Linked DNA regions of Homo sapiens. Each later gene encodes a partner of the first gene's protein in a complex. Each region holds a gene or a part of one and is shown in the gene's direction. Other genes may lie near its edges.

What was found.
Region 2: the proteins of YWHAZ (region 1) and MAP3K5 are in contact, whole or in part, in a crystal structure (PDB 6EJL), measured with the Homo sapiens proteins. Residues at the interface, in NP_001129171.1 of Homo sapiens: Val46, Lys49, Asn50, Arg56, Lys120, Arg127, Tyr128, Glu131, Gly169, Leu172, Asn173, Val176, Tyr179, Glu180, Ile217, Leu220, Asp223, Asn224, Leu227, Trp228; in NP_005914.1 of Homo sapiens: Ser964, Ile965, Ser966, Leu967, Pro968, Val969.

Annotation. Positions count from the first base shown.
Region 1 is NC_000008.11:100,915,991-100,921,020, reverse strand, and holds the end of YWHAZ (14-3-3 protein zeta/delta), read left to right. Parts: intron 1-268; coding exon 269-328; 3' UTR 329-4,498; downstream 4,499-5,030.
Region 2 is NC_000006.12:136,782,478-136,789,509, reverse strand, and holds part of MAP3K5 (mitogen-activated protein kinase kinase kinase 5), read left to right. Parts: intron 1-3,455; exon of another isoform or gene 3,456-4,095; intron 4,096-5,235; exon of another isoform or gene 5,236-5,463; intron 5,464-7,032. UniProt on the Homo sapiens protein: Serine/threonine kinase which acts as an essential component of the MAP kinase signal transduction pathway. Plays an important role in the cascades of cellular responses evoked by changes in the environment.

The DNA of each region.
Region 1 (5,030 bases):
TCACCTTCTGTGGATAACCAAAACTTTCCTGTATCTGAAGGTTATTTGAAGGCAACTCTGTGGTGTACTTAACCTGCTTATATAGTGGTTACAAAAAAAGTAAATTTGTATATTGAGATGTTTTTGTATCTTGAAGCTAAGTGATGCTGCTATCTTTTTAAGAATGCTTTCCAACTAAAACATTCAGGTATCTTGGCACTTATATGAAAACGCCCCCCCCCCCCCATCCCACTGAAACTTGCTGAAAAATCTTTCCTTCTTTTACCAGTTGTGGACATCGGATACCCAAGGAGACGAAGCTGAAGCAGGAGAAGGAGGGGAAAATTAACCGGCCTTCCAACTTTTGTCTGCCTCATTCTAAAATTTACACAGTAGACCATTTGTCATCCATGCTGTCCCACAAATAGTTTTTTGTTTACGATTTATGACAGGTTTATGTTACTTCTATTTGAATTTCTATATTTCCCATGTGGTTTTTATGTTTAATATTAGGGGAGTAGAGCCAGTTAACATTTAGGGAGTTATCTGTTTTCATCTTGAGGTGGCCAATATGGGGATGTGGAATTTTTATACAAGTTATAAGTGTTTGGCATAGTACTTTTGGTACATTGTGGCTTCAAAAGGGCCAGTGTAAAACTGCTTCCATGTCTAAGCAAAGAAAACTGCCTACATACTGGTTTGTCCTGGCGGGGAATAAAAGGGATCATTGGTTCCAGTCACAGGTGTAGTAATTGTGGGTACTTTAAGGTTTGGAGCACTTACAAGGCTGTGGTAGAATCATACCCCATGGATACCACATATTAAACCATGTATATCTGTGGAATACTCAATGTGTACACCTTTGACTACAGCTGCAGAAGTGTTCCTTTAGACAAAGTTGTGACCCATTTTACTCTGGATAAGGGCAGAAACGGTTCACATTCCATTATTTGTAAAGTTACCTGCTGTTAGCTTTCATTATTTTTGCTACACTCATTTTATTTGTATTTAAATGTTTTAGGCAACCTAAGAACAAATGTAAAAGTAAAGATGCAGGAAAAATGAATTGCTTGGTATTCATTACTTCATGTATATCAAGCACAGCAGTAAAACAAAAACCCATGTATTTAACTTTTTTTTAGGATTTTTGCTTTTGTGATTTTTTTTTTTTTGATACTTGCCTAACATGCATGTGCTGTAAAAATAGTTAACAGGGAAATAACTTGAGATGATGGCTAGCTTTGTTTAATGTCTTATGAAATTTTCATGAACAATCCAAGCATAATTGTTAAGAACACGTGTATTAAATTCATGTAAGTGGAATAAAAGTTTTATGAATGGACTTTTCAACTACTTTCTCTACAGCTTTTCATGTAAATTAGTCTTGGTTCTGAAACTTCTCTAAAGGAAATTGTACATTTTTTGAAATTTATTCCTTATTCCCTCTTGGCAGCTAATGGGCTCTTACCAAGTTTAAACACAAAATTTATCATAACAAAAATACTACTAATATAACTACTGTTTCCATGTCCCATGATCCCCTCTCTTCCTCCCCACCCTGAAAAAAATGAGTTCCTATTTTTTCTGGGAGAGGGGGGGATTGATTAGAAAAAAATGTAGTGTGTTCCATTTAAAATTTTGGCATATGGCATTTTCTAACTTAGGAAGCCACAATGTTCTTGGCCCATCATGACATTGGGTAGCATTAACTGTAAGTTTTGTGCTTCCAAATCACTTTTTGGTTTTTAAGAATTTCTTGATACTCTTATAGCCTGCCTTCAATTTTGATCCTTTATTCTTTCTATTTGTCAGGTGCACAAGATTACCTTCCTGTTTTAGCCTTCTGTCTTGTCACCAACCATTCTTACTTGGTGGCCATGTACTTGGAAAAAGGCCGCATGATCTTTCTGGCTCCACTCAGTGTCTAAGGCACCCTGCTTCCTTTGCTTGCATCCCACAGACTATTTCCCTCATCCTATTTACTGCAGCAAATCTCTCCTTAGTTGATGAGACTGTGTTTATCTCCCTTTAAAACCCTACCTATCCTGAATGGTCTGTCATTGTCTGCCTTTAAAATCCTTCCTCTTTCTTCCTCCTCTATTCTCTAAATAATGATGGGGCTAAGTTATACCCAAAGCTCACTTTACAAAATATTTCCTCAGTACTTTGCAGAAAACACCAAACAAAAATGCCATTTTAAAAAAGGTGTATTTTTTCTTTTAGAATGTAAGCTCCTCAAGAGCAGGGACAATGTTTTCTGTATGTTCTATTGTGCCTAGTACACTGTAAATGCTCAATAAATATTGATGATGGGAGGCAGTGAGTCTTGATGATAAGGGTGAGAAACTGAAATCCCAAACACTGTTTTGTTGCTTGTTTTATTATGACCTCAGATTAAATTGGGAAATATTGGCCCTTTTGAATAATTGTCCCAAATATTACATTCAAATAAAAGTGCAATGGAGACCTTGGGGTCTTTATTTCCAGGAGAAAAGATACCTTCTGCATCTAGGGCAACAATCCTTTTCCCTCGCAGCTCTTTCTTTTACCTCACTTACTGATTTCTCCTGACCCCCAAGCCAAGGAGGTAAAATAATTATATATATATATATATATATATATATATATATATAAAGTAATTATATTTTATAGCTAGACTGAAGAGGTGGGAATTTTTTTGTTGTTTTTTTTTTTTTTGGAGACAAGAGTCTTGCTCTGTCACCCAGGCTTGAGTGCAGTGGTGCGATCTCGGCTGAGTGCAACCTCCGCCTGCTGGGTTCAAGCGATTCTCCTGCCTCAGCCTCCCAAGTAGCTGGGATTACAGGTGCCCGCCACCACACCTGGCTAATTTTTGTGTTTTTAGTAGAGACAGGGTTTCACCATGTTGTCCAGGCTGGTCTTGAATTCCCGACCTCAGGCAATCCGCCCATCTCAACCTCCCAAAGTGCTGGGATTACAGGCATAAGCCACCGCGCCCAGTAGAGATGTGATATTATTCAAGTAAATAAAACCTGAAACTTGGCACATTTGCCTATTTAATGTGCATCAGTCATCTGAACTAGGTTGATCCTGGAATAATGAAAACACTTCACTAGTATTAACTAATGTTTTCTACATAGTAGTTCCCAATAGATTAAGGAAAATTTCCAACCTGAGATTCTTTGTTTTGGAATTTGAATAATGTGTTTGTAACTATTCCTTGATTGTCCCAAATCCAGGCTTTACGTCTGCTTTTGTCAATGTAACATCCTAGTGCCAGGAAATTGGAAAATCCAATGACTTTTTGTGTGTAAAGTACTGGAATTTTTTTGTTCGTTTGTTTTTAAGACGGAGTGTCAACTCTCGCCCAGGCTGGGGTGCAGTGGCCTGATCTCGGCTCACTGCAACCTTCTCCTCCCAGGCTGAAGTGATTCTCCTGCCTCAGCCTCGCAAGTAGCTGGGACTGCAGGCATGTGCCACCACTCCTGGCTAATTATTTGTATTTTTAGTAGAGAGAGGGTTTCACCGTGTTAGCCATGATGGTCTCATTCTCCTGACCTTGTGATCCGCCCACCTCGGCCTCCCAAAGTGCTGGGATTACAGGCGTGAGCCACTGTGCCCACCCTGGTATGTTTTTTTTAAATTGGCCACTTAAGAGTTGTCCTTCAGAAAGTGGAGCAGCAGTGTGATTAGTAAAAACGATGGGCTTTCCTGCAGCTCTGGCTTATGGTCTTTGTTTTTCCAGTTAACAGCTGTTACTTCATGCTGTTATAGGGGGTGGGGGGAGAAAGAGAAAGAATATGTCTAGTGGCTTAATTTTGGGGCTCAATTTGTTTATTATGTTTTTCCTGCAAAAGAGTCACCAGTCTTGTCATGGCTCAATGCATATTTTAAAATGAGTCAAAGCCAATTTGGAAGCTGCTATCTTAGGTTATTTGTAGTCAGGCTTCAAATGGAGAGTGAAACTTTGACTTTGAAAACTGGTGCTCTATGCTCAATGATGGTCTTACACATTCCTCTAGGGAAAGGTCAAGAAATAAATTTGGCTTGATTGTATTCTCTCATTTACCATATAGGAAATACTATGGTAGAACTGAAAATATGTACAATAGTAAAGTGGTGGCTGAGACTGGGCACTTGGAAAATAGACTTGGATTCTTTTCTAAGTGTGAAACTAATTAAATACTTTTATGTGACTGGTAGTAGTCACAGTCTCCTTGATTGATTCTAGTTCCTTTTCAAAGTGGAGAGACCTGAATATAGATTGTAACAGGATGTCCAACCTTGCCAGACAAGCAGGCATATATGTCTCTGGGATGCAGAAGCAGTTACAAGTTAATATATTTAAGCATAATGTTAGCCAATCCTAGGTGATACCAGAGATGTGAATATTTGATCATATTTGAGTTCATTCCTTGAAAGTCCAAACCTAACTGGTCTTAATTGATTACTTCTTAGTATTCCGAATTTTAGAATTTAAAACCCTATGAATTTTCAGTTTGTGCTTACATTTTCTAACATTGGATGTTTGCTTTGGCCAGCTGCTGTTCTGTGTGTTTTCTTACAAAGGCTTAGAGATTCTGGCTGGGTGTGGTGGCTCACGCCTGTAATCCCAGCACTTTGGGAGGCTGAGGCGGGTGGATCACCTGAGGTCAGGTGTTTGAGACCAGCCTGGCCAACATGGTGAGACCCCATCTCTACTAAAAATACAAAAAATTTAGCCGGGCATGGTGGTGCGTGCCTGTAATCCCAGCTCCTCGGGAGGCTGAGGCAGGAGAATTGCTTGAACCCGAGAGGCGGACGTTGCAGTGAGCCAAGATCATGCCATTGTACTCCAGCCTGGGCAACAAGAGCAAAACTCTGTCAAAAAAAAAAAGGGCGGGGGGCGCTTAGAGATTCATGTTTGAGTGAAGATTTGCAGAATGGGACCCAAATGGATATACAGCACAATCAAGATGCAGGGAATTAAGAACTTAACATGTGCTTGTAGGTTTGGGTTTGGGGGCTATGTGGGAGTATAAAAAATAGGCTATGTCTAGACTCCCGAGGGGAACTCGTTTTAAATGCCTATT
Region 2 (7,032 bases), on another chromosome or scaffold:
TTCCTGCGCCCACTCTGTCCCTTCGTACTGCTTCTTTCAACCTAGACAGGTCTCAGTTTAACCCCTGCCCATCTGGATGGCATGAACTCCCAGGATGAGTGCCCTCTCAGTCAGCATGAAAGCATGAAAATGTGACAGAATGAAGGTAGTGCATCAGTTTTATCCAAACCCTTTGTTTCTATTTTATTTTATTTGTTTTAGAGACAAGGTCTCACTCTGTTGCCCAGCCTGGAGTGCAGTGGCATGATCATGGTTCGCTGCTAGCTCGAACTCCTGGGCTCTAGTGATCCTCCTGCCTCAGCCTCCCGAGTAGCTGGGACTACAGGCATGAGCCACCACGCTGGGCTAATTTTATTTTATTTTACTATGTTTTTTTTGTAGAGACGGGGTCTTGCTATGTTGCCCAGACAGGTCTCAAACCTGGCCTCAAGCAGTCCTCCTGCCTTGGCCTCCCAAAGTATTGGGATTACAGGCGTGAGCCACCGCACCCAGCCTCCCATCTTTAAGTTTACTTGTACCCAATGTTTAGCTCCCACTTATGAGTGAGAACATTCAATATCTGGTTTGGTGTCTTTTTGGTAGAACAATTTATTTTCCTTTGGGTATATACCTAGTAATGGGATTGCTGGGTCGAACGGTAGTTCAGCTCTTAGTTCTTTGAGAACTCTCCAAATTACTTTCCACGGTGGCAGGACAAATTTACATTCTCACCAACAGTGTGTAAGTGTTCCCTTTTCTCTGCAGCCTCGCCAACATCTGTTATTTTTTGACTTTTTAACAAAAGCCATTCTGACTGGTGTGAGATGTTATCTCATTGTGGTTTTGATTTGCATTTCTCTGATGATTAGTGATGATGAACATTTTTTCATAAGTTTGTTGGCTGCTTGTATGCCTTCTTCTGAGAAGTGTCTGTTCATATCTTTCGCCTACTTTTTAACGGGGTTATTTGTTGTTTTGCTTGTTGATTTGTAGACCTTTCTTAAATGCGTAGTTTGTGAATATTTTCTCCCATTCTGAGGGTTGTCTTTGTACTCTCTTAATAGTGTCTCTTGTTGTGTAGAAGCTCTTTAGTTTAATTAGGTCCCATTTGTCATTTTTGTTTTTGTTGCAATTGCTTTTGAGGACTTAGTCATAAATTCTTTCCCAAGGCTGATGCAGAATGGTATTTCCTGGGCTTTCTTCTAGGACTCTTATGGTTTGAGGTCTTACATTTAAACCTTAATCCATCTTGAATGAATTTTTGTATATGGTGATAGATAGGGGTCCAATTTTATTCTGCATATGGCTAGCCAGCACCATTTATTGAATAGGGAGTCCTTTCTCCATTACTTACTTTGTTGACTTTGTTGAAGATCAGATGGTGTTAGGTGTGTGGTTTCATTTCTTGAGGTCTCTTTCACAACTTCTCAACTCTGCCCTATTACTCAAGAGCAGCCATAAACAGGACCTAAACAAATGATCATGACTATGTTCCAACCAAACGTTATTCGTGGACACTGAAATTTGAACTTCATATACCTCACAAAGTATGATTTCTTGTTTTATAACCATTTTAAAATGTAAAAACCATTCTTAGCTTGCAAGCCATACTCAAAAACAGGTGGCCCACAGGATTTGGCCCCTGTGCCATGCTGACCTTTGCTCTACACCCATGACCTGTACTTGAAAGTTGAATTTTTATGAGATAGTGGGAAGAACATGGTCCCTCATATTAGATCCGAGTTTTCATCCCAGCTCTGCTGTGAACCATGTAATTGTGAGAACGGCCCTTCATTGCCTCCAGTGGTGTTTCTTTGCCTGTAAAATTGACCAGGGTTAGAAGTGAAGGGGGAATTGAACACATTTTTTTAGGATTCCCTTATTTAATCCTGTGAATTTACAAAGGCAAGGTGGCATGGGATGCAGGCACAAAGCATTAGAACAGCATTTTCAAGGTTTGGCTTTGGGTCCTGATTCTTTTCTAACTTGGAGCAAGTCATTTAAAGCCTCAGAAAAGAGTGGAGTGTTGGAATAATTGGTATCTGAGATTCCCTCCAGCTCTCAAATTCTGTACTTTAAAATGACAGCATTATTAAGACAAATGAATCATTTCAGCTCGTAGAGATTAAATGAACTGCTTGTATATATCATATTCCTGCCCCTGAAGAGCTCAGAGTTGGTGGGGAGGGCAGACCAATGCCTTTGCCTTAGCAGTGCCTCTGTGCCAGGATGCTGGGCTCCCAGGAATCAGCTTCAAAAATCAGATTGAGGATACAGTGGGTTCAAGGGTAGCTTCTTATGCTTGTTTTTTGTTTGCTTTTTTCCTTTTTGTGGAGAATGGGGTCTCGCTATATTGCCTAGGCAGGTCTCAATTTCCTGGGCTCAAGCTATCCTCCTGCCTCTGCCTCCCTAAGAGCTGGGATTACAGGTGTGAGCCACCACACCTGGCAAGGGGTAGCTTCTTAAAGGTGGTGACACCTGAAGTGAAATGGCAGGGTAAGCAAGGAGAGCCTAATGAAGGTCTCAACGTTTACATGGGAAACAGTGATGTTCGAATAGCTCAACCTAACGGAGTGAGTAAGAACTTATTCCCAGCTACTCGGGAGGTTGAGGTGGGAGGATCCCTTGAGCCTGGGAGGCTGAGGCTGCGGTGAGCTGAAATCGTGCTACTGCAGTCCAGCCTGGGTGACAGAATGAGACCCTGTTTCAAAAAAAAAAAAAAAAAAAAAAGAAGAACTTAAAGTTTGGTAACATTTTTAATAAACTTTCCCAATCTTTGTGTACTGATGTCTTTAAAAAGAATAGGTTGCAAGTTAAAGGTTTTCACTGATTTTTTCTTGATCTGTTTACTATTTAACTATATTTTAATTTCTTCTTTGACTACAGTTGTCATTTGCTTTTTCATTTTCTTTCTGAGGTGAAGCTAATGCTCTGTCAATGCTTTTATGAAAATTCATCTTATTTACGTATACAAGAGACTGTCACTCAGAGACAGCAAAGCCAAGCTGACAATACCCCTTCTTTGCCCTCTGCATTGTAGGCAGAAAATTCCGTAAAAGCTAAGAGATGTCAATACTATCGTGTTGCCCTGTGTAGGTGGACAGATCCCAAATGGGAAGCTTTCCAAATTTTTTTTTTTTTTTTTTTTTTTGAGATGGAGTTTTGCTCTTGTCACGCAGGCTGGAGTGCAGTGGCTCGATCTCGGCTCACTGCAACCTCTGCTTCCTGGGTTCAAGTGATTCTCCTGCCTCAGCCTCCTGAGTAGCTGGGATTACAGTCATGTGCCACCACATTCCAGCTAATTTTTTTGTATTATTAGTAGAGACAGGGTTTCATCTTGTTGGCCAGACTGGTCTCAAACTCCTGACCTCAGGAGTGATCTGCCTGCCTTGGCCTCCCAAAGTGCTGGGATTACAGGCGTGAGCCACCGCGCCCAGCCCTAAATTTTTTTTAAAAGACATCAATGCTGCTATTCTCTTGTTTTGCTTATGAAAACACTGAACCGTGAAGAGGTTATATTCATTCATTCAGGTTAAATGTTTGAAGGTTCTTGCTTGGAGCACACTTTTCTTAGAAACAGTATTGCACATGGTGGTCAGATTCTGGGACTAGCCTGTAAGAAGCCTGGTTAACACAGTTTATGGAACCATTCACCATTTTAAACATTCGGGAAAATTCTGTTTCTGAAACCTAAAACCGGGACTTTTCTTGTATTAGAGCAGTGACTTTTGCTTTCATCCACCTCTGAGTAGCATCTTGGCCAGATGTAGGAGAAGCATCAACTTGGAGTGGTGAAGGTGGTGGGGCTGTGGTGAGGAAGGGGACAAAGGGAAGATCAGGTGGCTGCAGGGAGAACCGGGATGCTGTGTGAAGGAGGAGGCAATGCCAGCAGGAGATCCAGCAACACTTTCACTTCCTTTAGGCTTCTTCCCTTTCTACTTCTGGCCGACGTAAGACCCAGGGATGCTGCTGTGCTCAAGGCCACCTCACTCCTTCAGTGGACACAGGGTTAGCTTGGCTGCCTGCTTCCCATTTCCTTACCACCAGCCTTCACATCCGCCCGGGCCTTTCAGCTTGGCTCACTGCAGATTGCAACCGCTTACTCAGCCTTTCACCCTGTAGCAATCATAGGTAACAGGAAGGAAGCACATGCTAGTTAAAATTGTAAGAACTTAGCTTTTCTATTCTCATCCATGGTATGTTCCCACTTTACTTGAGCTTGTGACAAAAGTCGCCCATGTGTTAATATGCCATCTTGCTGGAGAGGCATCTGACCTTGCCAGGCTTTGGCTCCAACTTGCTTCCAGCAAAGCTCCTTAGGACTTCTAATCTTATTTGGTAAAACAATAAAACAAAACAGAACATAACCTTGTATCCCATCTATCCCAGATGGAGAAGTTCTTGAAAATTGTCCAGCCCACTTCTGCATTTCTACTTTCAATATACTTTCCGAGTATATTGTCTCATATATTTTGAAGGAGAGAGTAAAGTCTGTATGTCCTAAATAGTGGTTCCCACGAACCAGTTAAAAAAATTTGGAGGACTGACATGTGTTTGCCAACATTTAAATTTTTCCAAGTAAGAGTATTATAAGTAGAGAAAGTGAGGAAAATCGAGAGAGAGAAAGAGAGACAGAGAGACAAGAAAATCAACAACCAGCCACCTATTGCCATGATTTCTTAAAAAGGAAAGTTTTATGTTAAAAAAAAATTAGTGGGGGACATAACCTTAGAATGAAGGGCAGATCTTCACATACAGAAAATGTGTGCAAAAACTCATGACTTGTTATTTATTTTTCCCATTTCTCCAAGGATGAGTGAAAACTTTATCACACCAGTCAACAGAGTTGTGTTTGAGAGCCTCTGATTGGAACCGCCCTGCAGCCCCTTCCCACCTTTCAGCCACTGCTTCACGTGAGAAACGAACCTTAGTAAAATTATCAAAAGAGCAAACGTAGATAAACTCATAAGGGAAAACTCTAGTTAGGGAAGGATTTTTTAAAAAAATCCCAGTGGTGTCCAACACATGGTTTTTCTCTGAGCTGTTCACGTTCCCTGGCACACCATTGTAGCAGCTGCCACCCACCGCACACAAACTGACAGCACTGCTGCTTCTTGCTTTCTTGGATAATGGGTCAATTAAGGCAAAACTATAATTTTTTTAAAAGAGCTTAACTAGAAAATCGGACGGAAAAAAGCAAAATCAAAAAGAAAACTCCAGAGCACAAAATTAGTTTTTAGAGTACCAATTTCTTACCCCACATCATCAGCTGCATGTTGTCATGACCGGCTCTGCTTCCTGGGCTGCCAGGATCCTGGTTTCTTTCCTTAATTTGGTCACCTGTTGTCTGCTTGAGACATTATCAGTTGGTAGTTCGAGCTGGTTCCATCTCTGGGTGAAGCCTGTGCATTATATAAGCGCATAACACAGGCTTGTCTCACCCGTGGCCTTGGCTGGAGCCAGCCTTTTGGGAGTTCTCTGTTTATAGGGCAGTTCCCCTCTGGTGGCTATAAGAACTGTGCCCTACTTCCTGTTTCAGAGGTCTGGTTAGAGGCCCATTCAGTTCCTGTTTCTGGTTTGCAGGATAAAATTGGTTCACACTTTCTTTGTGGAGCAGTGGGAGATGGACAAGCACAAAGTCCGGGAAATGTGCAAGTCTCTCCAGCATGAGGTACCAACCGTGCCTGCTTTCCAAGTACTTCCTCCAAGTGGTCCCTTCAAACACCACTCCAAGCCAGGAAAGTAGAGAACCATAGGAAAATGCATTATTGGCTACTGACTCCAGGGCTGACAGTGTGCTGTGCAATGATGGCCCCTCCCAGGAGGCCATTCGAGGGCCTTTTATCACACGCTCCCCTTTCTGTCACCCATGGAAGCCTCACTGTGGCTGTAGAACATGCCAGCATTTGCCCCGCTCCACCTGGGGCAAGATGAGAGTGGGAAATGTGGTGGAGGTGGGCAGTGTTGCAGGAACCCACAGCTATGTGGTTATCAGAAGAAACTGGGAACCCACAGCTTTGGGAAAAATATATCTTGAAGACAGCCTCATCTTCCTGTAATTTGGATATAGGTAGGTGGGGAAACTGGCTAGATATGAGAAAGATACCCTCATTTTCAGGGAGTAAAATTAAACTTGAAAATTTTATTAGTGGCATAAAAGGGAAATAAAGGAAATCAAGGCAAAATGATAAATTAAAAATCCATTGGTGACTCTGATATATTGGTTTGTGTAGTTGTGGGTTTTTTTTTTTTTTAAGAAGATCTTGCTCTGTCACCCAGGCTGGAGTGCGTTGGCATGATTTCGGCTCCAACTGCAACCTCCGCCTTCTGGGCTCAAGTGATCCTCCTGCTTTGAGCACAGCCAAGCCTGGCCAATTTTTGTATTTTTATGTAGAGATGGGGTTTTACCATGTTGCCCAGGCTGGTCTCAAACTCCTGGACTCAAGCGATCCTCCTGCCTCAGTCTCCCAAAGTGCTGGGATTACAGGCGTGGGCCACTGCGCCTAGCCTAGTTGTTTTAATGTATTAGTTTTTCTCTTTGGCTAAAGGTATTGACTAGAGACACTAATCGAAATATGTGCCAGGTTAGTGGAAAAGCAGGAAGGATATGAGACAAAGCTGATTTTCAAAATCTTGTCTAAGTGTTCAAAAAATGTAAATAATTGATAACTTACATTTCATATGAATTTTATTTTGTAGTGTTTTTGGTTTTCCAAAGGAAAACAGAAATAACTGAAACTACATTGTGATAATTTTCTTAGGGGAGACAGGAGAGAGAATTTTAAATATTAAGGGCATTTCCTATTTAATAAAATCATAGTAGAGCAGATCTGTATAACTTAAATGCCACAGAAGTTGCACAGGGTAACAGAAAACATTCCACTATAAGCAGACCTTTTCTGTTACAGTAGTTCATCAACAATGAGGAAAGCAATTGCCTTTGGTATATGATTCATACAGGAAGTAAGTTATATTCCTTTGTACTGGCAATCTCCAAAAATGGTTGAGACCAGTTATACCAGTACTTTCCAATACTTGTAGCCTCTTCTACAC